Regions from separate parts of the Homo sapiens genome. Here all the other regions are linked to region 2. Evidence: fine-mapped expression QTL. A gene starts in region 2. Each other region holds a variant in brackets. All regions are shown on one strand. Distances are from middle to middle. Region 1 holds the start of BHLHE41 (basic helix-loop-helix family member e41). Region 2 holds the start of SSPN (sarcospan). Region 3 has its middle 24 kb from the start of BHLHE41.

Region 1 (8,480 bases), 73 kb before region 2:
TACATACTAGAAGCAGGAGCCAGAGTCATCCTTAAATCAAAATGCTGAGTCAGTTTCACTAGTGGCCCTCCCTCCCCTATTCTTAGCAACTAGAGAGAGGTGTTCATCTAATCAAATAACTTATTCCTGACATGCAAATTTGTTTATTTTGTGGTTAGTTGTGGGCTAAAACCATTAGCAAGTTGCTTTTATTTTTATGTAATAAAATGATGGCAAAATATATAACGTATTTGAAGGCATTTGCATAAGTAATCTTGAAGGCATTTGCATAAGAAGCATCGCTGAGAATCTGGAAGTTAAAGGAAATAAAAAAGCTGAGAATCTATCTGGAAGTTAAAGGAAATAAAAAAGGTCACAGATTCTACAAATTCACACAACTTACTTGTAGAACAAACCCTCAGGTCCTCTGTCAGAGCCTATTTACTCTAATTTTAGCACATTTCAAATGGGCGTGGTAGTGTTTAAATGGTTTCCCAGCCCACAGTAAGTCAGAGGTAGCAAATTAGATAAGAGATGGAGGAAGCACTCTGAGGCTTCAAGAAGTGACAGCTGACAGGCTAGCTGTGCGTAAAGAGACTGAAAAACCCTATAAAAAGCAGGTAGAACTCAAAAAAAAATTTGGTGCAGGTGCAATTACTCCCAGATGTCATGCATAGTGCAAAAATGATGTTTACAATGATGACCCTGAATTATTGAGAAAGGTTAAGTATGTCCAGGTTAAGACATTTAGAGGATATGTGTAATACATTTTAGTATGCTTTCCACTAAAAATTCAAAAATGAAAAACAGCACTGGCATTTGAACATAGAAGTTTTAGTTTTCTAAACCACTGACTGTCCCTCCTGTCGGACAAACTAGGCATCACTGAATTTAGAATTTTAAAATATCAACATTTAAAAAAGGTGGTTTTATATTTGTTTGGAGTTTTCAATATGGAATCTCTGAACGAGCATAAGAAACCCGATTTTAAGACAAACGTACAACTCCTAGAATAGCATATTTTTAAAGTACATGCTGCGCATGTTTTCTAGTATAAATCCCATCTTAATCACACAAAATATGTGATAATTTCCCACGTCAATCCCTTACTTAAATTCTTCTATGAAAAACTAGAACTTCCATGGGACTTTAGCATGCACTGTAAATCCATCTTGAACTTGTTTAAAATAACAGTGAGAACAATGGGTGGGTCTAAATATATTGAGCTGAGGGTCCAATAGGTTAAGAATTTTTGTTTAATGAAAAATATCAGGTTGCTACCTGAAGTAAAATACCATGATCACAACAGTACAGCCAGCTTTTGGCAATATAATGGTCTTAAGTCATTCATGAGAGCTCTGTTCATTTCTAGCTAATGTAAAAGTCCTTCGTGTGTTTGCCCAGCCATGTCTCTCCAGAGGCTCCACTGGCAATCACTTTCCATGGAAAGGTTAAGAATTGACCTGTGACATAGAAAGGAGTAGGCTGAGCCTCCTTTTACATAACTTTTGAACAAATCTCGGGTGGTGGGCAATAACCAAAGTCATCGCCTGGATGGCCAGAAACAGGGAACTAAATGAAAAATAGTTTCACAATGATAGGAACTAAAACTCCAAATTTTACATAGCTATTAAAGTGTTGTTTCTAGTGCCTTGAAAACGTGCTTAAGGTTAGCTCTTTGGAGGGGAGGGAAGGGCCATTTTTTTTCAATTCAATATAAAGTTTGCTAAGAAATGTGTTATATAAAATTAATCTTTTTAAAGATTATGTAAAATATATGTATGTAAAATTAAATTTTTATGAGTATAATACTATACTCATAAAAACATTGACTCAAGATTCATATTTGCCTGAAGTTGGAAAATCATTTTAGCTGAAATTTCACCACTACAAGTATAGAAGCCTCTTTAGTGAATTATGACTTCAGCCTTTTAATTCATTAAAATAAATCAATGACTAAAATAAAGTTTTTTCAGATTTTCAGATACAATATAGACAATATTATTTTTGCATTTCTGTTCTAACTTTATCTTACCATGTTACCATATGGGCACTTGGACTAAATAACTGACTTGTAAAATCTGGCCCAACTCTGAAGATTTTTTTATCTCATTATACCAAAATTATACACATGCTAAAAACACTGTATTATCCTCTGATTCACTTTTAATCCTTTTTGGTTATGAAACTAATATTACTACAGTAGTGGCATCAAAATATAGCTCAAAATATTTGAAATGCTGTTTTTCCCATTATTCTGATTCAGATAATTTTTCTAAAGTTCAATAAATTAACAATGCTGAAAAATCCTACATAGTTTTCTAGTGTTGATTTCAATTTCCTTTGTTCTATGGTTTGTTACGAAGCTTCATGGGGGCTGCTCAATCAAGTTCAGCTTACTTGGTCCAAGATACTGCAATGGGAAGTAGTTGAGTGACTGAGGGATATAATAGAGCTGGCCACTAGTGCTAGTGCTGACTCTAGGTAGCTCTGTGACCTTGGGAAGATACTTAATATCTCTGGGCTTCCTTTCTTTTTTTCCTATCACGAAATGCAGGGGACTGGATGAGCTGTGGCTCCTTCTGGCTTCATACTGTTATGACTTGCAGTTCAGTTGCCATAAAGTCAGCAGAGGGAGCACTTTTTCTACATCTTATACAATCTGACTCTCATTTAAACATTTTCAAAAATCAAGGGGTTTGTGAAGAACATTCCTGAAACTAAAAGCTGACAATCCTTCACTGTTTGTATCATATCACAGATTTGAATGGAAATTTGAGAAAAGTCTAGAAATTATTTCTGATCCTGGAATTCCATGATAAAGTCCCATGACAGAATTATTTTATAAAAAGAAGCCAAAACACTCTCATATTAAGCACCCCTTTGTGATCATCTATTTATACAAGACCCAGTGAAAGAGGAACACCTGACCATACTAGAGAGGCTATGTGATGTCACAGACGAAAACTGAAAAACTTGTCAATCATTAAAACAATAGAAAATTGGGTCTAACATAAACAAACCACACAAGTTAATTGGTAGGTTTTTCTTTTGCACTTTTCATTAAGATACATTGGGAACGAGCAGGTAGACAAAGCCAGAGCCTGGAGGCTTGCAAGAGATTGGAAATGTGTGACATCAAGCCAATGACAAAAAAAAGCTGTAAATCTGAGAACTGTAGTGATTTGTATCCCTATAGTTATAGATATCTTAAAACTAATTGAGCATCCATTATGTCTTTTTTAATTATTAGACAATATCATATCGTATATTAAAGTTTTTATTCCTTAGTAAGAATTTTTAAATCACAAAATAGTGTGGCAATATTTAGGTAATAGAATTTATGGAGTGCTGAAAATACTAGAATATAAAGGTAATTTCTAGTTTATCGTCACATACTAAACTTTTCTAAACCAGCTGGTTTCTCACAGACAGTATTTATTTTTTTAAAATAATTTAAGACAGCATAAGCTTGTACCAAGCATAAGCATTGTAACAAAAGTGCAACTTTTCAGCAAATCCTCCCCAAAAGATATTTTAACTCAAAATATCATTAGCACATATTTTCTCCCTACAAAAATAGCATGTCAGACATCATTAATTGGATGTATTAACAACTATGTACATAAGAGCCACCTTGTAGGCTAAGAGTTTAACGTTGTTTAAACACAGCGTTTGAGGCAAACAGTAGCAACAGCAGCAGCAAATGCACCAAACTGACGAAAAGACCCAGATATTTTCCTCACTCATAGTCAGACTGTTGTGTCTCACCCCTTACATAACATCCAAGTGAGATTTCTCACAGTGCTACCTTGGCAACAAACTAAAAATATCTAGACAAGGTCTTGGTTTAAGCCTTATTAAAAAAGCTTTCTTTGTGATTATCTGGTATCTGGTTTGGTCTCCAGAAAATACATAGACTTGGAGATAGGAAGGCCTCACAGGACTTCATTCTATATCTTTACAGCATTTGCAATCAAAACTGGCCAGTTAAATGCTTTCGTTCACTTTTGAATTTTAACAGAATATAGGATATATCAGTTTGGACTTGTTTTTTGTTGTTGTTGTTTTTTGTTTTGTTTTGAAGTTCAGTGCACTTTTTTTTACAGTAAGATTACAAAAATTTAGGAACATGATGGATTAATGAGAGTGGGAATAGATGCACTTGAGATGTGTATGTATAGATACCTATCTATGGATAAATAGAAATCTGTACAGATAGATATCTATCTATATATGGACTTAGAAGAAATTAAGATGAGTCCATTAATTCATGGTCAATTTCTCAATAAAGTGTTAGCAAATGTACTAGGAATGATTCTGGCCTTCTCATCCATCTCCTTCCCTGACTTAGTTCTGACGATGGCCCAGCTCCGTGTTTCTTTAACGAGTGCAAGTTACTAAGAGATACCATTTAAACCACTTCAGAATAGGTTGCAACGTGAGAAACTGCATCCTCACTTCTTTGAAAAATATATGCCTTTTAGAAAGCTGAACATTAGAAAATACTGAAGAGTAAATTCAATTCTAAAAGAGCCTCAATCTGTTTGTGGAACGCCTCCTAAAACAGGCAGGGCAGCTTTGAGAACTAGCTCTACATAACAACTACCTGCTGTTCCATGTCAACTCCAAAGACGTCAAAGGTGTTAACATCTTTCCCCTACCCCGGGGTTCACCTAGCTCAGCCACAGAACAGACCCTTCTTACTTCCTCTCGAATTAGGTTCCAATTTTAAGAGATAATGGAACATGGCCTAAAAGGGGGCAAAATTTATTTGGGGGATTAAAAAAAAGAGCCAGTGTCTTTCGCATAGGATCTTTTACAGCTGGTGGGGGGAAGAAAGGGATGTTAGTGTGTGGAGGGTGGG[G/T]TGGTGCGGGATGAGCAAAACAGGAACTCCGAATGTACACATAACACCTGTTTTGTTGTTCTTGTTTATGCCTGTCGTGCATCTATTACACTTCCTCCCTTAAAGACCTTAAGGGTATTTTAACTTCTCACTCTGCTTGAACCTCCTTAAGGGTATTTTAACTTCTCACTCTGCTTGAACCTCCGTCCTTCGGGACGCAAGGATTCAGGGAGCTTCCTTTCCTGGCTGCGAGGGATCTTCCTGAGCAGAGCTCTCCGGGTTCCCCGGCTCGCGGGGCCCGGCGAAGGGCAGGTGGGTGCGGCCGTGCGGGTGCTGGGGGTGCGGCGCCCCAAGGGGCGCCACCTCGTGCGGCAGGAGGGTCGCGGCGGCGGCGCCCGCCTTCTCGGGAGGGGGCGACAACACCGAGGACAGGCAGGGGAACGCGGCGGCGGCGGCGGCAGCGGCGGCGGCGGCTGCCGCGGCTGCCGCCGGGGCGGGGATGCCGGGGTATAGCAGCGGGAACGGGGCGGCAGCCGCCGCCGGGTACAGATACTTCTCCAGGCCGCTCTTGTCCAGGAAGGGCTGCACGTAGGCGGCAGCTGCAGAAGGCGAGAGGAAGCAGAAGGGCAGGCAGAAGGGGGCCGCGGCGGCCGCGGGCTGCGGGAAGGGCGCGCCTCCGCCTCCGCCGAACGCCACCAGCGAGCTGAGCAGGGCGGCGTCGGGTCTCAGCAGCGCGGCCGCGGCGGCAGGGTCGGGCCCCAGAAGCGCGGCTGCCGCCGCCGCCGCGCCGCCCCCCGGGCCGCCGCCGCTGCCGCCGCCGCGGGAATCCAGCTTCATCCTCTTGGGCGCCGGCGAGTCCTCCCCGGGAGGCTCCTGCTTGATGGTGACGCGGCTCGCCCCCGCGCCTTTGCCTTTCTCGCGGTCCGGCCGGGCCTCGGCTTCGCCGCCGTAGCCGCTGTCGGTGTCCGTGTCGTTCTCGGCGGCGAGCTCGGCGCTGGGCTGAGTCCGCTGGATGACGGGCACGCAGTAGGCGAGGGGCTCCAGCTTCTGCCCCGCGCGCTCCAGGCAGGGGGCGGCCGCGGACCCGGCGGCCGAGGGAGCGCCGGTGCCTTTGCTCAGAGGGACCTGTTGAGTCAACAGCTGCGGGGTGGGCAAGAACTGGGTGGCCACGGCGTGCAAGTGGTTGATCAGCTGGACACACCGCGGCTCCCTGGGTGTCCAGCTCTCAAACCGGGAGAGGTATTGCAAGACTTCTTTGGCGCATGTTTGAAATCCCGAGTGGAACGCATCCAAGTCGGACTGAATGGGCGATTTCAGAGATCGCTCCCCTAGGATGAGGAAGGGATGGGGGTGGGGGACGGAGGAGTGGAGGCAAGAAGAAACATACCCACGTTAAAACATCTGCTTATCACGTGGGCCCTGCATCGACTAAAGTGATCTCGGTTTTTCCCCAGTATTCAAGTGATATAATCCACCAGTTGACGAGAGAAGCGGGGTGGCGGAGGTGCGGAGCGGGGAGAGGGCGCTCTCCTCCCAGCTGAAAACCAAAGTGGAGCGGGTGCAACCGCCACTTTAAATCCTGATTCCTCCGAGTTCTGCTGAAAGCCTCTAGGATGCTTCGGGAAATGGGCTCGTTCCAATGAAGGGAAAGTATAAGCAATTTAACAAATGAGAGGGAACCCATGAGCCCACGGAAAGAGATGGGGTGCGGGTGAGGGAGTCCTGACACTGCTCCCCTGTGGGCTGCCCCGCTTCATCAGGGTAGGCTGGCCTCCCTGAACTGACTTACCATTCTGTAAAGCAATTATCTTCTGATGCTGTTGCTCGGTTAAGGCGGTTAAAGCTTTTAAGTGTTTCAAAGTTAATTCCAAGACTACAGCTTTCTCCAGATGTCCCAGAGTCTGCAGTGGTGCAAAAAAGAAACGGGCACTTGGTTACTTAAAAACACACATTTGGCTTAATTGGCTGTCCATTCAGCACAGCAATTTAAGCAAACACTTTGAAAGAAGTACTGTTCTTTTACTTCTTGAGCTTTCCACAAGACAGGTTATAAATGATTTCTTGCCTTCAGCTGGGAGCACCTACTCCAGTTTGCGGGAAACTCTGTACGGTATAGCACAAGTTTTAAGTCAGGAACTTATATTTACATTTATTCTTATATTTTCTGGGAGTCGCACCAGACTATTAACACGCCCTTGGAGAGCAGCAAAGAATGAAAATGTGCATCTTACTGTCAATTTCAGATGTTCAGGCAGTAAATCTTTCAGCTGAGCAATGCATTCATTAATTCGGTCTCTTCTTTTCTTTTCTATTAATCTGTGCGGTAATTTGTAGGTATCCTTAATATATGAGAGTCATGGAAAAGAGAAAACAGTAAGCGAAACATTCACTTATTGGATATTACCCTCGTCTGCCCCCCCCGCCCCCCCACCATAAAACATACTATGTGATAAACTACACCCAAGAAACCTCTTTCCTCTGGACTGTTCTGCAATGCAATTTAAATTCAGGTATGATGTTTAATATCCCCCTGAGAGTACCCAGCAAGCCACTTAAAATTCACAGTTGGGGAAGCTCAGGGGCTGGAATATATTTGCGGGCAGAGCTTCACTGTGAAATCAATGGCTCTAATTAACTACCCATGCAGGTTATGAGGAATATCGGGAACTTACACTTACCTTGGTGTCGTCTCGTTTCATGCTCCTTTTGGGTTTACACATATACAAAGAGGAATAGTCCAGTCTGCAAAACAGAAATCAGCATCAGGCACCCATTCGGGGAGGGGCTCTGCCCTCGCCAGCTCCATACCACTTTCTGGAGAAGAAAAAAATCAAACCAAAGCCTAGACAGATATTCGCAAGGGTGCGTGCACCTTACCCTATAAAATCTCTATGTTCCAGTAACTGTCTCTCTTGCAAATGAGGAATTCCTTCGTCCATGTTCAACTGCTGTTCGTTTCCTCTGTTTCGATTTTTGGGGCTCTGTACAATAATCTGTGGGACGGTAGGCTTGGGAGACCTTGGGGGGATCTGTGCGTCTCCAGTCTCTCTCTCGCTCTCCCTCTTCAGTGCAGTGTTGAAAGTGTGAAGCAGTTGGTCCCCCCCCTCCACCGCGCTCGCACACACACACGCACACACACGCACACTCGCGCCGGCCCCACTGCGCTGGTAGTTTGCTCTCACTCCAGGCAGTGTTTGGCCACAGGGCACGCGCGTCGCCGGCCAGACCAGCACCCAGCTCACGTGCGGAACGTACCATCCGCGGTCCAGCCCGGAGGGGGGCGGGGGAGGAGGGGCCGGGCCGGGCGGGGGCGTCGGGAGAAGGCGGCGAGAGAAGGCGAACGGCAGGAGGGGGCGGGGACACCTGATCAGGGCCACCGGAAAGGAAAAACAACTTCGGCCAAGCTATTCATCTTCCCAAAGGCGATGCAGTCGGCAGGAGGAGGGGGGAGTGGGGGTGCAGGGGTGCGGGGCAGCCTGAGCTTCCTTGGCTCCAAAATGCGACTCCCTGGGTTCGTCCGTTGTTACGGTGCAGGAATGTGAACGTGGCTTTTTGCTTTTCCACCGATTGTGCTGTTGGTTTGAACCATAGAAAGGAAGTGAAAAGAGAATTCGCGGTGGGTAAACTTGAGTCCCAAAGGAAATTTTGGAGACTT
Region 2 (8,396 bases):
TGACCCACAGAAACCATGAAATAATAATTACTGTTTCAAATCACTGAATGTTGGGGTGATTTGTTATTGTAGCAATAGATAATTAAAACAGAGGATCTAGAATGGCAGTAGAGGCATTAGGAGAGTTTGGTGAGATGAATTTATAAAAAACCTACTTGTTCTATTATTAATTACTGAGGGACATCCAGTGACTCCCTGTATTTCTCTTTTTATTACACTTTTAAAAATTGAGATGTCATTGTATACAATAACATGCACAGATCATAAGTGTTGTTCAATGACTTTTGACAACTAAGACCCATATGATCACCAAAGATACAGAAGACTTACTTCCATCACCCAGAAAGTCACCTCTTACTCCTTTCGAGACAATTCTCTCATCCCAACTCCTCAATCACTTTTTAAATTACCATAGATTCATTTTGCCTTCTAAAACTTTTATACAAATGGAATTATGCAGTATGTATTATTTTGTGTCTGGTTTCTTTCACTCAGCACACTGTTAATGAGATTTATCCAAGTCATTGCCTGCATCAATAGTTCACCCCTTTTCTTATTAGCAAGTGGTATTCCACTGTATGGATATGCCACAATTTGTTTATCCATTCTTCTCCTGTATTTCTCAATTAAAATAAATTTAGTTATTTCTACAGTATCATATGCAGTGGAAAAATCAAAATTACATGTAGAAAAATTTGGTATTATAAAAAGCACCTTAAAAATAGGTGAAATGCATGATTAAATGATTGAAATTTATCACCTCTATAGCCCTCCAGAGAATGAAAAAGTTAAGCCAGGTATGGTGGCATGTGCCTATAGTCCTAGCTGCTCAGGAAGCTGAGCTGGGAGGTTTGTTTGAGCACAGGTTTGAGTCCAGCCTGTGCAACATAGTGAGACCCCATCTCCAGGGAAGAAAGAGAGAGAGAGAGAATGAGAAAGTCATAAGCCCTTTGTTGACCATAAAGATTGCATTGTCCATATGATATTTAACTTGAAAATACAAACTTGCAAGCAAAAATTATAAATGGGTCAATTCTGCTGAGAAAAAAATTAAGCCCAAAGGCACATTTAGAATTAATGACATAGGAATAAAGAAAATAAAAAAAATAGGAGTTGCTTTAATTTGTTCTACACACACACACACACACACACACACACACACACACACACAAATACACACACAGAGGTCAGCAATATCCCTAGAGTCATTTTAGGTATGGCGGCCAGCAAGGCATATGGGGGCAGTGGTCCTGCATATCACAAATGAATTCCCAATTGTTTTCTGCAGAGTATTTGATACTTCTTTAAATCAAATCTAATTGAACATTTCAGATAGATTTAGTTACATATGAAAAAGACTTGATATAGACCTTGGAAATGTAATAATTTTTTTCTGAAATCCTTTTTTGTTCTTGGGGAATGTAAGATCATGTGTTTGAGAATATGTTGGTTTAAAGATTATTTCTAGTTGGGTTTCCTAAGACATTTTGTTAATCACACTAGTTTTAAAGAGTTATCATCTTCCCCGTTCTGAACTTCTGATGCATAAATACTTCAAAATAATGTTAAGTTTGAGATAGTCTGCAAAGATAGAGATACTGGCTTGATTTTGTTTTCTCCCCCAAGAGGATCAAAATAATCTAAACCATATATTAACTACTGTCCTGCAATTTCTAATTTACAATCTTTGTCAGTTTTGAATTATGGAAGCAGCCAAGAGTATCCAAAAACATTTTGTTTCTACTGCGCCTTTTTTCCCGGTAATATAAATATCTGAAGAGGTTATTGCTTAACCTATAAAATAGTGACATCATAATTTATGAATACTGAAAAACCCAGTTCATTTCTGTTAAACTCTATGATGAGCTAGACGTGATGATTTTTTCTCAGTGGAAAGGACATGTAAAAGGAAGAGTTTTCTTTGTTGTATCCTTAATGACAGTCTTATCTATTTTAGCCTTGATTACTCTCTATCACTATTTGACAGTAACTTTTCTTTGTTTCTACTTTCAAATATCAATTAAGTGAAAATGACATCCTCGTCACTATCATCTTATGTTATTACCAAAGACCAGGCCTCCTCAAACACAGATTCAACCATGCTGTTGGGAAGCTGAGCAGGTGTGAGTTTCCCTAGACCACCAAAGGCTGAAAATTGTAGTCTGCAGTTGTAATCAGACTAGAAGAATTTCAGTGCGTCTGGGATGTTGTTCATTTACATTGCTTTCATTTGTAATGTGTCTCAGTGAGGCAATCAAAAGTAAGCTTTTTTAAAAAGTATATATGTACAACTGTTTTACAACTGTAAGCCACTAGTCTGAAACTCAGAAGACAAATGTATAGCAATATCCTACTATCTTGTTTGACTATTTAAACTTACATATAATTTAAGGTTTTGAGGAAAAGGCTAAAAATGTTTCACTTTTAATTGCATGACAATTTGGCAGTATGGTCAGCAAATAGAACTTGTATCTAGTTATAAACTAGTACTAATAGGAATAATGGTCTCCACTGACTATTAAATATATACTATGGTGATGAATCAAGATATTTTTGTAAAGTACTCATCTCTAGGTCTAAGTTTGTAATTCACTGTATTATAGATACTATGCTACCCATGATAATTAAATTGTTTAAAATCACAATTTAAACAGTCTAGCCACTTGTTTGCCTATAGGCAATATACATACAGGAAGTAATTAATAAAGCAGTTAATCCTTTAGACCATTGGCTTTGGAGTTCACATCTGGTTCCACTTACCCCCATTCATAAGTAGGCTAGTGACTTTAATCCAATTACTTAATAATTCTGATACTCAAATTTTTTCATCTTTAAAAGTGGAAACTATAATTATAAGGTGGTTATAAGGGGTGACAATAAAATATGTAAAGCACCTGTCATGTGTTTGTTACAGAATACTCAGTAATAGGTAGCTATATTGTTAATAACAATACATACTTGATTCCAGGTAGTCAATTGACTTTCTATAAATATTTACCATATTTCCATAGGAAAACCAAGCATTTTGTTGTTTTGTCATTTGGGTTCTTCTCAGTCAGGCCCAAGTCAGGTGGGTGTCCTGGTATAACGCCAGTTTTTATTTGTCTGTTCACAATAGAAAGCCCTTGTGGTGTGATGGCCCCAAAGCTGACCATAAACTTGCCTCAGCCACTCTGTTTTTCTGGTAAGAGTGAGTGCTATTTCTACTGCCTCTGCATGGAACTGGGATGTGTGGTTTAGATTCTGTTTTCTAAGCAAATGTATTTGTTCCCTGAACCATTATTTTTCTCACTGGTCCAGATGGAAGGCATAAGGAGAACACCTAAGTTCATAAAATAAGTAAGGGTGAAGTACATACTTTTTGTCTTCAAAGTTACTTTTGTGGGGACTTGGCAGTTTACAAAAAGAGCTGATGATGATTAGTTTCTAATTCTAAAGCAAACAGCAGGGAATTGGATTTTCTTTAAATTTTCCAATAGCAAACAAGCTAGGAGTAGCCTTTATCCTAACATCTTGGCAACATCACTTATTTTTGAATATAGCTTTCTGAATGTTACAATGACCATACCAAAGGAGATATAAATACCCCCAAAGTGATGGGATCATTTTTTAGTGGTTTCGCTGAAATTTGCTCTAAGTGCTACTGAGTAGAGGTATGCGGGAATAAGAATAATCAGTTTTATTGATTTCTTCTGTGACTCTGGGCCAGGACCAAGTCTATTTTGAACATCTTTATATCCTAGCACATTGTAGGTGCTTTAAAAATAACTCTTAAATATTGACTGAGTAAAAGCGTCTATCTCTAAGATGGTCAATCCAATCCCCCTAAGCACTGTTGTGGAGATGAGTGAAGACTAACTAGGAGTCTTGCTCTGTCGCCCAGGCTGGAGTGCAGTGCCATGATCACGGCTCACTACAACCTCTGCCTCCCAGGTTCAAGCGATTCTCCTGCCTCAGCCTCCCGAGTAGCTGAGACTACAGGTGCGTGCCACCACGCCTGTCTAATTTTTGTAGTTTTAGTGGAGACGGGGTTTCACCATGTTGGCCAGGCTAGTCTTGAACTCCTGACCTTGTGATCCGCCCACCTCGGCCTCCCAAAGTGTTGGGATTACAGGCGTGAGCCAACAGAGCTTTTAAAAACAAATACACGTGAGAGGCCGGGTGCATGGTGGCTCACGCCTGTAATTCCAGCACTTTGGGAAGCTGAAGCAGCAGGATCCCTTGAAGCCAGGAGTTCAAGACCAGTTTGGACAACATAATGAGATCCCATCTCTATGAAAAAAATTTTAAAAAATTAGCCAGATGTGGTGGTGATTGCCTGTAGTCCCAGCCACTTGGAGACTGAGGAGAGAGAAGCTGTTGAGTCCAGGAGTCTGAGGCTGCAGTGAGCTAGGATGGTGACAATGCACTCCAGCCTGGGCAACACAGTGAGCCCCTGTTTGGAAAATAATAATAATAATTAATAACATATGTGAAAGAGAGTTCACAATTAGTCCAATATCTTTAGAAAGATTCAAAAACACCTAAATGCGAAAAATGCCTTTATTCATTTGTCAGCTGGATTACAGAAAGTAGGAAGAAAAGAGCCTGTGCCTCTGTAGGAAAGTAACAACGACTTAACTTCTGGAAATGACTTCGCAGCTTAGAGCCCAGCAGTGCCTATTTTGGATTAAACTGTGTATTAATTAAGCTCAAACGATTTCAACATTCATCACCTTGCATTGCACTTCACAGAAAGCAAAACCAAAACAATCCTGGAGTTTTGAGTGAGGAAAACAGACGCCCCGCACTCGCACACGCGCGCACTCGCAGCCTGTCTGAAGTGCAGAGGTTCAGGCGGCCAAGGGACCCGCGCCGGTTTCCGCGGGCGACCTGCAAATCCTGCCCGGGGCCCGGCAGGCGCTGCGTCCCGGCGCGTTGGCAGTTGGCGACCCCCCTCGAATCCCCCCTCTGCTGCGGGCTCCCCGTGGCCTTTGGAGGCTCGGTGAGTCGGCTCCAAATGTTTTCCATATTTGTTCAGCCTCCATAATTCGAATACCAGGGCAGGCCGAGCCAGCCGTGCGCCGCGCTCCAGGGCCCAGGGCGCCGCACACGCACCCACCCACCCACCCAGCCTCGCAGCGCCATGGGCAAGAACAAGCAGCCACGCGGCCAGCAGAGGCAGGGGGGCCCGCCGGCCGCGGACGCCGCTGGGCCCGACGACATGGAGCCGAAGAAGGGCACGGGGGCCCCCAAGGAGTGCGGGGAGGAGGAGCCCCGGACCTGCTGCGGCTGCCGGTTCCCGCTGCTGCTCGCCCTGCTGCAGCTGGCCCTGGGCATCGCCGTGACCGTGGTGGGCTTCCTCATGGCGAGCATCAGCTCCTCCCTGCTAGTCAGGGACACTCCATTTTGGGCTGGGATCATTGTAAGCATCAAGTCTGTTTTGCCTAAGCGCGTTTGCCAAACAGGAATGCGAAGTCGCATGGTCGAGTTGAGACTAACCCAGCTGCATGTGCCCTTCCCCGGGTTCACTCTTCTAACTCGCGCTCTGCTCGGTGACTGATGCGTGGGGCACTGGGTTTTCCCGGGCGGGGCAGGGCTGGACGCGATAGGGCTCCTGCCCCTCTCCTGCTCGCGGCTCCCAGCGCCTCCACGGGGCCTGACTCTGACGCTCTGGAGCTGGGGAGTTCATTTCAAAAGCTGCTTATTTTGGTCAGACTGAACAGCCTCAATAACAACAGCGGATTCATTCGGGCTTTTTCCTTATCCTGTTACCCAGACCCCACCCCTGTCCTTAAACAAGTGGCAAAAAGTGAATTAAGTTCATCTAGTGAAAGCAGGAGAGGAGAAAGCCTGTACTTGGAGTTGCCACATTGAGTAGCATTCATTTTATGTTTTAAACTGAGGCTCCATTAGTAAGTTTCCTGAAATGATGGGCTAAGGCAGGAAATGCGAATACAGCAAGCACAGCCTTAATCCACTGGAGTCTAAAGTGGGATAAACCCAGGGCGCTGGCCATGGCAGAAGTATATTTGGGACTCCACCGATGGATGTACTGTTCTAAGTTGAACAGTACTCAGCTGTTGTGAGTGTTGAAACATGTAGCATACTTGGCTTGATTAAATGAATTCTTTAATGTAAAACGGGTGCCACTTACTGAATACCTACTGTGTGCTCGCCCTGCTAGAGGCCTGACACATATTATTTCTAATCCCCACATCGTCCTGATGGGATCGTTTTAATCATTCTCACTTCTCAAATGAGGGAACCCAGGCCAGACTCACCCAGGGTCATGAGTGGGTAAAGCATTCAGCCATGCTGATTCCTCTTTATGCTAGACTATATCTGCGTTTTCCTCATTGAACCACACTGCCACCACATTTGGTTTGTAACTTTAATATTATGTTATATTACAGTGTCTTGTAGCATATTAAACTCTTTCACATGCATTATTTCATTTGAGCCACGAAACAACACTTTGAAGTGGGAACTGTTATTCCTTTTGGATGTGAGGAAATAGGCTAAGAGAAGTTAGATGACATTCTCAAGCCCAGAGATTGAATGTGGTCGAATCAAGAGAGACTAGAAATGACATTTTTGACTCCTTGTCTCATATTGCATCCTTACTGCTATTACTGACCACAGGAACTGTAACTCACAAAACGTCCCTCAAAATAATTTTGTATCAGGGACAGACATTAGAGAGACCTGATATATATGCATCGATGGAGGTATTTCCTAATTAAGATTATTTGAATACACAATTTTTGCATAGTAATTTAAAACTTTAATTTTTGTACTAAGAATTCCCATGAAATTACCATGATTGGAGTTTTCTAAATCAAGTGATTTTAAAAATAGCTTTTCAGTAAGATATACTGGGTATTTCAGGCACCTCAATGACGATCCACATACCCAGGGGGAAAATATGTCTGTCCTTTAATGCCAGGGGAATTAAAACAAACAAAGAATGAAGCTCTTTCATTCAGTGTTTTTAAATATCATTTGCAAATGTGTTCCCCATCCTTCCTTTATTGCAGCTTCAAAAGCTCAGCACCAAAGAGGCAAATTAGATGGAGAAAAAACTTATTTTAGGGTTTAAGGCATGAACATAAAAACCATGCAACTCAGAAATTTTATGAACTAAAGCTCCTGTGGGAGATGATGTTCCTAATTGCCCTGGAAGCTCCCTGGGTGTTGCACAAAGGGCATTATATACAGCCAGGTCTCTGCTCTTTCTGGTTTTCTTTTTTATCATCTAGGATTCATTTGAAGTTTGCTCTCAGTACATAGCCCTGATGAAATCTGTCATCTTAGATTTTCTTTCAACTGAGAATCTATGTAGAGGAGAGCAGCTAGTAGAGATGTCCTGAGACTAGTGAGGAGGGTCTCTGAGGAGCCAGGCCAGGAACAACTCTCATCCTAGCAGGGCCAGAATTTGGGCATGTGTCACTGTCTCACACAGACACCATGCTCTGCTTGTCCTCACTACTCTGTCTGTGGTTGGTCACAGGGCACTCTTCCAAGCTTTCAGGGAAGGGAAAAGATAACGAGGCAGATGGCAAAGTGCAGATGTGTACACACCACACCTGGTGTTGAGCACCAGCTCAGCCACTGTGTGCTGAATAACTTTGAGTTTTGGGGGGGGGTTTTTGGAGACAGAGACTTGCTCTGTCGCCCAGGCTAGAATGCAGTGGCACGATTTTGGTTCACTGCAACCTCCCCCTCCCAGGTTCAAGACGTTCTCGTGCCTCAGCCTCCTAAGTAGCTGGAATTACAGGCGTGCACCGCCACACCTAACTTGTGTGCCAAATAACTTGTATGCTAACTTGTGTGCCGAATAACTTTGGACAAGTTACTTAACTTCTCTAGGTTTCCATTTCTTTACTAACAAAATCAGAATGATAATAATTCCTACCTTTTCGGGTTGCCCTGAGGATGAAATAAATTAATACATGTAAAGCACTTAAAATAGTGCCAACGAATGGCATGATTCAATGAGTTAGCTTTACTTATTAGCTGCTTGGGAAGCAGTCACAGGCAGTGTCACTCTTCAGAGGAAAGGTGGCTTTATTTCATCTCTAGACTTGCAAAACTATCATTTTTGACTCGCTACATTTCCAAGACTAGTTTGAACCCTGAAGAAAATATCAGTTTTGCCGTCTCACCTTTCTCTGTTCTCAGCCAAGTTACTCTTTAGCAATCACAGTGGTATTTGATTGGTCCAGTACTTTCTGAATCTTTCTGGAGGTTTATAAAAATGAACTTGGAGGAGAGTGGCCTCCCCAAGGTCATTTTTCCTTTGGGATATGCAGTGATTCAGGGCTGGTATATCCTGCCGGGTTATATCAGTTTTCCCTGTTCAGGAGCCCCACCAAACCGAAGCAATCCAGGCCCATCCCTGGGGCTGAGGCTGA
Region 3 (8,480 bases), 93 kb before region 2:
AATGTCTGCAGTAACAACGAGTCTTACACTAGGGGGCAGCAGCTACCGTCCAGCCACCTTCCAGGGCTCCAAAGCTGCGCCTTAGGTGAATCCTTACTTGAAGAGATCCTGAAAAAATGAAGGAAAACACATTACTAAAGAAGTTTTCTTTTTATCTTTATATTAATTTGCTTTGCTGCAGTGTTTCTGAAAGAGAATGGGCCGCTCGTTCTGAAGATTTAAGGTGTTTCTTTGCCAATAAAGAAATAGCAATTGAACATATTTTATCTGCTCACACTCCATGGCTCATTTCTGAAGTGACAAAGTAACATGGTCTGAAAGATCTTTTTAAACTTAGTTTCTCTGTACAGCCTAGTAGTAATTGGTAATTTTTATCTACTATGGATTTGATCAAAAGGAACAACTCATTGCACTGAGAACACTAAGCTATCGAGTGATACCAAGTGTTAATTTTGTAATTCATGAAGAGTACAGATTTTAGAGGGAAACTGCTGAGTCAAGGGATTACTCAGTCTTTACAAATCCACACTCACTCAGCTTGGCTTGAATTATTAAAGAATCAGGTTGTCCTAACTATGAACAAGAATCCAGAAGTCCAGACTTTATTTAAAAAAAAAAAAACCAGAATGTGTGAAGATGGGTATATTTGCAAAGATGTGGAGAGTTATTCAGTTTGTGCTAAAATAAGAATAGCATTGTCCTACAACTGAGTTGGCTCAAATATAGTTTGCAATATAGCATTCATTTGTTCCAACACAATTTTCCAAATACAAATTTAATGAAAATGTAGATTGAAAGTCCCATTAAATAACATGCTAAGAAACCACTATTGTGAATTCCAAATTCTCTGGCAATATTTCATAAAGAAGTTCTTTTTATCCCAGCTTACTATAAACCTTCAGGGTGGTGGTTCTCAATTGAGACAGTTCCATCTACTAGATAGTATTTGAAATTTTGCAGGGGTGTTTTTGGTGGTCTCAGTGATTACAGGAACTACTTCCTTTTAAGATGGTGGAAAAACGGTAGCAAGAAAACAAACAAAGAAGTTTACCAATGGGCCAAGAACCTGAACAGACATTTCTCAAAAGATGACACACAAATGGCCAATAAGTTCATGAAAAAAATGCTCAACAGCACTCATCATTAGGAAAATGCAAATTAAAGCCACAATGAGATACTACATCACATACAAAAGATAACACATGTTAGCAAGGATGTGGAGAAAAGGGAACCCTTTACACTGTTAGTGAGAATGTAAATTAGTACAGCCATTATGGAAAATGGTATGGGGGTCCTCATAAAACTAAAAATAGAACTACCATATGATCAAGCAATCCCACCTCTGGGTATGTATTCAAAAGTGTTGAAATCAACATGCAAAAGAGATATCTGCATTCCCATGTTCACTGCAGCATTATTCACAAGAATGTGAATGCCAAACTACGGAAGCAACCTAAGCGTTCATCGACAGATGAGTGGATAAAGAAACGTGGTACATAGACACAGGGAAATACTATTCAGCCTTAAAAAAGAAGGAAATTCTGCCATTTGTGACAACATGAATGAACATGGAGGACATTATACTAAGTGAGATAAGCCAGGCACAGAAAGGCAAATACCACATGATCTCACTGACATGTAGAATCTAAAAAAGTCGAACTCATACAAGTAAAGTGGGGGCTACCAAAGGCTAAGGGAGAAGGAGTGAGAGGGTATGGGGAGATGTTGGTCAAAGGGCACAAAGTTTCAGTTAGACAGAAGTAATAATCTTTCGAGATCTATTGCATATCAGGGTGATATGGTTAATAATAACGTATATTTCAAAGTAGCTAAGAGAATAAATTTAGAATATCTCCCAACAAAAAATGGTAAGTGAGGTAATTGATATGTTAATTAGCCTGTTTTAATCATTCCACATTGTATACCTATATCAAAACATCACATTGTACCCCATAAATGTATAAAATTATCATTTGTCAATTAAAATAATGTTAATTTTTAAAAATATGCGTGAGAGAGCCAGGGATGTTAAACATATTACAGAGCATAGGTCAACCCTTGACAATGAAAAATTATTGTCCTATCTCTCACAATGTTTAATGCCCTATCTGTTTTACATATAAGCATAAATTGTTTTTAGCATGGTTTTTTTTCCTCTCTTTTTGTTTTTAGAGACAAGATCTCATGCCCAGGCTGGAGTGCAGTGGCAAGATCATGGCACACTGCAGCCTTGATCTCCTGGGCTTAAGCAATCTCCCACCTCAGCCTCCCAAAGTGCTGGAATTACAGATGCAGGCCACCATTCACAGCCCTAGCATCATTTTAATAAAATTGAGTGTTCCAAGAATACAACTACCAGTTGAGTTGAGGAGAGATTATGCTTTATTTAACTCAGAACTTTACCCAGGTTTGTTAACCATCTTTGAAGTTCATTTCACAGGAGCATCTTAACTTCTGGAACTGAGTCACCAATAGAATAAACTGATAACAATCTGTGTTTGTAGCTCTTGATTCAAGGTGGTTCTAAGTATACATTTAAATATACTTTTTATTCTTTATTCAAAATGTCAAATATGAAAAGAAGAGTCAACTTGAAGGTAATATATTGGCATCAATATATTAACAGTATAAGCACCTGACTACTTCATTACATTTTGTAGCATAGCTACCATCTGTGCCTTTCCATACTTAAATATATATATATTTATATATTATTATATATAATTATATATATAATTTCTTTTATTTCTCCTTTATATCAAAGTTAAGGCATTACATTATTTTAATAATATTATTGATATATGATAGTTATATTTTTTAAAATTAATGTGCATTACAGACTATATTTTCTATAAATTTCATTTTAAGCTAGTAAAGGAGCATAAGAAAATATTTGTTATAAAAGGGGACCTTTAGTTCTCATAAGCTTGAGAACCAAGATTCTAAGGGTCTCTCTTTCATTTGTGAATTCCTCACTATTCCTCCCTCTTTCCTATCCATCCTACCACTTAAAAGAAGGAAATGGTCAGTAATAAGAAATTATTAGTAGCTAGGCCCATGAAGTAAGTTTTATTCTGATTAATAATGTTCTTTAAAAGACAGTTGTAAGCTGAGCATTCCTATGTGATGTGGATATAAATATAGGATTGTCAAAAGTTCATATTAACTCATTCATTATTTCATTTGTTAAGTATTACTATGTACCTGTGAGGTGTAAGGCATTTTGCTATTAAATTGATCGTGTCTGAAAAGCACCAAAATCATTGCTACACTGAAGAAAATCTCTCTCTGGGGGAACAAATGGATATTACATTAGGCAACAAAACAATTGACTGAGTGAAATGTTCAACTAGATATTTTGGAAGCATCTAATTTGTAACTCGTATTGGTCCCGAAAGCCAATCAGAGTAGATATGAAAGGGAAAAAATGCTAAAACTTTACAAAACAATTTTCATATTGGGGGAAAATACAATAAAGGAAATGGTGAGACTCTTTCTGACCCAAATATATATTTTTTAGAATCAAGATTACATCACTGTTAAATTAGTATAGCTGTAAAAGGTCT[C/T]TTGCATAACTATTTGCAATGAAATTCTTCATAGTAAATTTAGTAACAGAAAGAAACGGTCTTCTGCCATTATGAGAAACAAATTAATGTTATTTCCCCTGTCCCCAGCTTTTGAAATAACAGTAGGCAAAATAGCCTAGTGAAGGGTGGCTGTATGACTAGGAGCATGTTGCTTAACCTCTGAGCACATAGGTTTCTTTATATGATAACATTTACCTCATAAATTAAATGAATTAGCAGTTGTTATATGCTTAAAACACTGCTCAGCATATTAGAAACACAAAGCAAATAATAGCCATGATCATATCTCTTTTCCATATCAGAAGCGTGAAAACTGTTCATGGAAACAATTGCCTAATGTTGGAACGGCGGGCTTGACTTGACCAGACAGTCATATGCTTTGCTCAGTGCTTTTGTGCTCCAAATGCATGAGATACTAACCGGTCCTAGTGCAATTAAGAGTGTTTGACAGCCGGGCAATCCTAGCATGTTCCTAACTAAGCGATAATTGAAGATCTGTGTAGATTTTAGGTACAGGTTGTTACCCAGCAACAGATTGAAGTTCCGGAAGAAATTCTGAATTATCTCATTAATAAAGCAACTTCCTGATAGACAGCTATTGACTCTGACCACAGCGAACCCAAGAACTCATGATCCTCTAACCCAGAAAAAAAATATGCAGGTGAGCACTGATGAGGTGGCAAGATGCCAAAAAAACTGGTTTTACAACCTATCGGGTAAGTGAGCAAGTGGTGGCTAAAGGTTGGTCACATTATCTGGAAAGAGCAGGAAGATCAGGTCGACTGTGTTTTGCAGAGGTTATTAGCATAGCATGGGAATGCAGCTCTGCAGCCAAAGAAAGAACCCTGATGCCACTGGGGCATGCTGACCCATGATGCCAAATGGAAACTGCACCTGTCTGCCTTCCTTCTAGTCTCTCCATAGTGTATTGCATGACCACTGAACTCCCCCAAAAAGACATGCAGGAGGTCTTAGATTATGTCATTTAATGCTTGTAACTGTCCTACAGAGATGCTACTCTCATTAAAATCATCCTCTTTACAGATGACGAAACATAAATTTTGAGAAGTAAGTTGCTTAATGTCACAAAGCTGATGAGTGAGACTCATGAGCGAAGCTGTCTCATTTCTGATTTCATGCTGTCGATGAGATTGCCCTCTAGGAACCAATTACAACTAATGTTTGTTTAGGACTTTAACATTCAACGAGCTCAGAACCCCAGCATGCTGTAAGGTGGACCTTATCTTATCACCATCCCCATTCTATAGATAAGGAAACAGACAAAAAGATGTATAAGTGGTTTTCCCATGTTTATGCAATTAGGTGGTAGAGCCAGGATTTGAACCCCTGGTCTTTTGAATCTAAGCAGAATTTACAAGAGGAACACTCAAGCAGAATGGGGTGAGTTATGCTGAGCACAAAGCTTAAGAGAGCAGAGTTCTGTGGTCAGGACCTTAGCTGTTTTTTGCCTTTGCTTTGTCTGCCCAGACAATTATCTGATGATAACTTGCAATTTGTACATTCTGGATACATTACCTTTCTCTAGATGACATGTAGGATTTGTATAACCTAGATATGTCTTCTCTGTTGAAGATGAATATTGGAGATAGCACAATTGGATTTAAGCAATATCCTTAAATTAACATGTCAAGTGTACTTAGCTGCACTTGGAAATCCGTCCAGGTTTAATAAGCAAATACTACTGGTCCAAAGAGGAGATCACAGGATGAGAATCTTCCATCCTTTATGTTATAGACTGAATGTTTGTGCCCCCTACCCCCAAATTCATATATTGAAATCAAATCCCCAATGTGATGGTATTTGGACGTGGGTCCTTTGGGAGCTAATAAGGTCATAAGGGTAGAACCCTCATGAATGGGATTCGTGCTCTGATAAGAAGCCCCAGAGAGCTAGTGAACCCTCTTATTGCCATATGAGGATACAGTGAGAAGTCAGCTGTCTGCAACTGGAAGAGGGCCTTCACGAAGAACCCCAGCCAGCTGACACTCTCATTTTGGACTTCCAAACTCTGGAACTGTGAAAAATAAGTATTCGTTGTTTAAGCCATCCAGTTTATGGTATTTCGCTATAGCCGCCAGAGCTGAATAAAATATTCCCGGAGGACAGACATCTCTGCATTTTGGGGAGAATGTTATTTGCAGTTTTATTCCACTATTTTTATCTAATAGCCTGTTGCTTATTATGGATTTCAGCAGGTCTGATGATGAGAGGGTGGCTGAATGTCTAGGAAATTGTGCAGTGTAAGAAAGGAAATAACTCGTATAGATCTCTGCCAAAGTTTATTCCGCTGTTGGTCCTGAGACACTGGGTTGCCTAGTATCATAACACTGGCCAGGCATCACGAGGAAGCTATGAGCACTCGGTTGATGTCTGCAGTCACACGGAGGCCTCAGTTACTAAAGAAAGAGGAGTGTTACTGAGATCAGTTACTTCACACCCATTTTACCACATCTCCTCACCCACAGGGTACTGAATGTATCTATCTAGGAGACTGTATTTTCAGTTATAAAACATGATAAAATGTTTCATCAATTCATCCCTTTGGGCTCACTTTTAAATTTTGTTTAAGTTTTTCTGTTAATTTACTATAAATGTTTAATAAATTAAGAGTATATTATTCTCATGAGCTAACACTTCCTCCAAACTATTTTCAACCAATGAATTAAAGGATAATGGAATGCTTTTATCGGGTACATAATAAATGGTCAATGCCACCAAATGTTACCAATTTCCAATATTAGAGACATAAAAAATGTAGAAAGGCTGTTCATTTTATGAGGGGATGGTTGAGTGAATTAATTTTAAAAATATTTACTGGATGCTAGACACGGTGGTAGGTACTGGGGGTACTTAAATTAATAATTAGCCAGGACCCAATGCCCACCCTACATCAATTTCAAGAACAGGAACAATAAATGTAAATACATCAGAAGTATTCAACTTGGGGACTTTCAGGAGAATACAAAAATAGAAATAAGGAGACATTCTTTTCATCCTATTCTGGTTCAATTACTTTGTTCTCTGTACAAGCTGGAGAGCACATATTCTCCCATCATGAGAGAAAGGGTGGCGGTCATTCAACCCAAACCAATCACATGTGCTTTGGGCAGAAACTGTCAATATTAAGGCAAATCACATCCAGTTTATCACAGACTCAGTTAAAATAGAAGGAAAATATTCCCTGAAATATGGTCTCTGATGCTTGGTAACAGTGCTTTGGAGCTTGACAGATGTAGAGACAGCCAATCACCTTTACATCTGCCAAAATATCTATTCTCCAAAGCCAGAAAGATAAAACGCCTAAAACCACAATGTGAAGAGTTGAATATTGAAAATTCCATATGTTTTGCAGGTTGATGCTAAATCCTATGAGAAAAACCAGCACATCGGGGCTCTTGTAACCAACTTTCAGGAAAGGAATCCTAATCTCCGAGAGGCAGGTATAAGAAAGATTACTGTTTATAAAGGAGTATGGCCATGCTGACCTTCAAAGTGGGCAGAGCCACAGCAAGCCACCTCATCAGGTCTGATAACCATGTCCTGGAAATGGGTGATTTGGAGATGGCTGGTAGGGCCAACTATATAAGAGTTGGCCTTATTGGTGAAGTAGCCAAACAAATGAGGATGCTTCAAAACTACCATTCGAGTGAACGGAGTTGGGCAGTGGGGGACAGGATTTAGGGCTGAGCACCTAATTTCTCAATCAGATAAAGGGCAAGGTGGTTCTCCTCCTCCCAGCTTGGGTAGGAAGTGCAATCAGTCCGATTTCACAACAGAGAAGGCAAATCCTCCTATGCTGATGTCTTCTCCTAAAATCTATTCCTTGCTCACTCTATCATAGGCACACTGGCCTCCTGACTGTCCCTTGGTTGTGCTGTGCATGCTCCTAGCAAGGGCCTTTGCACTTGCTGTTCTCTGTGCCTGGCACACTCTTCCCCCTGATTTCCTCATGGCCCCCTTTCTCACCTCCTTCAAGACTTTCCTACTATCTCAGTGAGGCCTAGTGTATTCATTTTTTATTGCAGCCATAACAATCACAACTTACTGGCTTAGTATATATAGGGTGAATTCCCATATACACTTCATGTGGCATAAGACAATACAGATTCATTTTCTTATAATTCTGTAGGTCAGAGAGTCAAAGTGAGTCATATCAAACTAAAATCAAGATGATTCTAAAATCGAAGAGGACAGTCTGTGTTCCCTTCTAAGGGCTCTAGGGGAGGCTCCCTTGTAGGACGGAGGTCCCTGTTTCCTTGCTGTCAGCTGAAGGCTGCTCCTGGCTTCTGGAGACTTCCTGCATTCCTTAGTGCTGGCCCCCGGCCTCCACCTTCAAAGCCAGATATGTGGAGTTCTTCTTCCTTCTTTAAATGTTATGAATGGCATTTATTTAGTAACACTGACATTGGTATTAAAATGGGACTACACATTTAAAAAAATCACTGTATTATAAAAATGTCATAAATTTCTCTGGACTCTAAAATTGAAATAAAATTCATAAACACATATCCTCATTTCTCTAGAGATGGATGCGTCTTATGTAGGTAGAAAGAAAATGAAATGGCTAATATGTACCCAGTTTTAAAGGGTATCTAAGGAAAGGTATATTAAGGACACTCAGTTTTTAATTTGGGCTATAATTTTTTTTTGTTTTTTGAGACAGAGTCTTGTTCTGTCACCCAGGATGGAGTGAAGTGGCGCGATCTTGGCTCACTGCAACCTCTGCCTCCCGGGTTCAAGTGATTCTCCTGCCTCAGCCTCCTGAGTAGCTGGGATTACAGGTGCTCACCATCACGCCCAGCTAATTTTTGTATTTTTAGTAAAGATGGGGTTTCACGACGTTGGCCAGGCTGGTCTCGAACTCCTGACCTC

Evidence for each region.
Region 1: its variant is fine-mapped to the expression of SSPN in whole blood (TOPMed, PIP above 0.99).
Region 3: its variant is fine-mapped to the expression of SSPN in whole blood (INTERVAL, PIP above 0.99).

The regions. Positions count from the first base shown.
Region 1 is chr12:26,117,016-26,125,495 of GRCh38, forward strand. It overlaps BHLHE41 (basic helix-loop-helix family member e41), which reads right to left and starts at 8,022. Exons shown (of 5, transcript NM_030762.3): 1 at 7,703-8,022; 2 at 7,504-7,567; 3 at 7,057-7,164; 4 at 6,615-6,726; 5 at 3,015-6,153. The coding sequence starts at 7,764. The coding sequence ends at 5,051. It also overlaps a transcript of SSPN not described here. The variant G/T (reference allele first, on the strand shown) is at 4,847.
Region 2 is chr12:26,190,548-26,198,943 of GRCh38, forward strand. SSPN (sarcospan) reads left to right here and starts at 5,026. Exons shown (of 3, transcript NM_005086.5): 1 at 5,026-5,404. The coding sequence starts at 5,126.
Region 3 is chr12:26,097,207-26,105,686 of GRCh38, forward strand. No RefSeq gene overlaps it. Among named protein-coding and RNA genes, the nearest start is that of BHLHE41, 24 kb to the right of the region's middle. The variant C/T (reference allele first, on the strand shown) is at 3,567.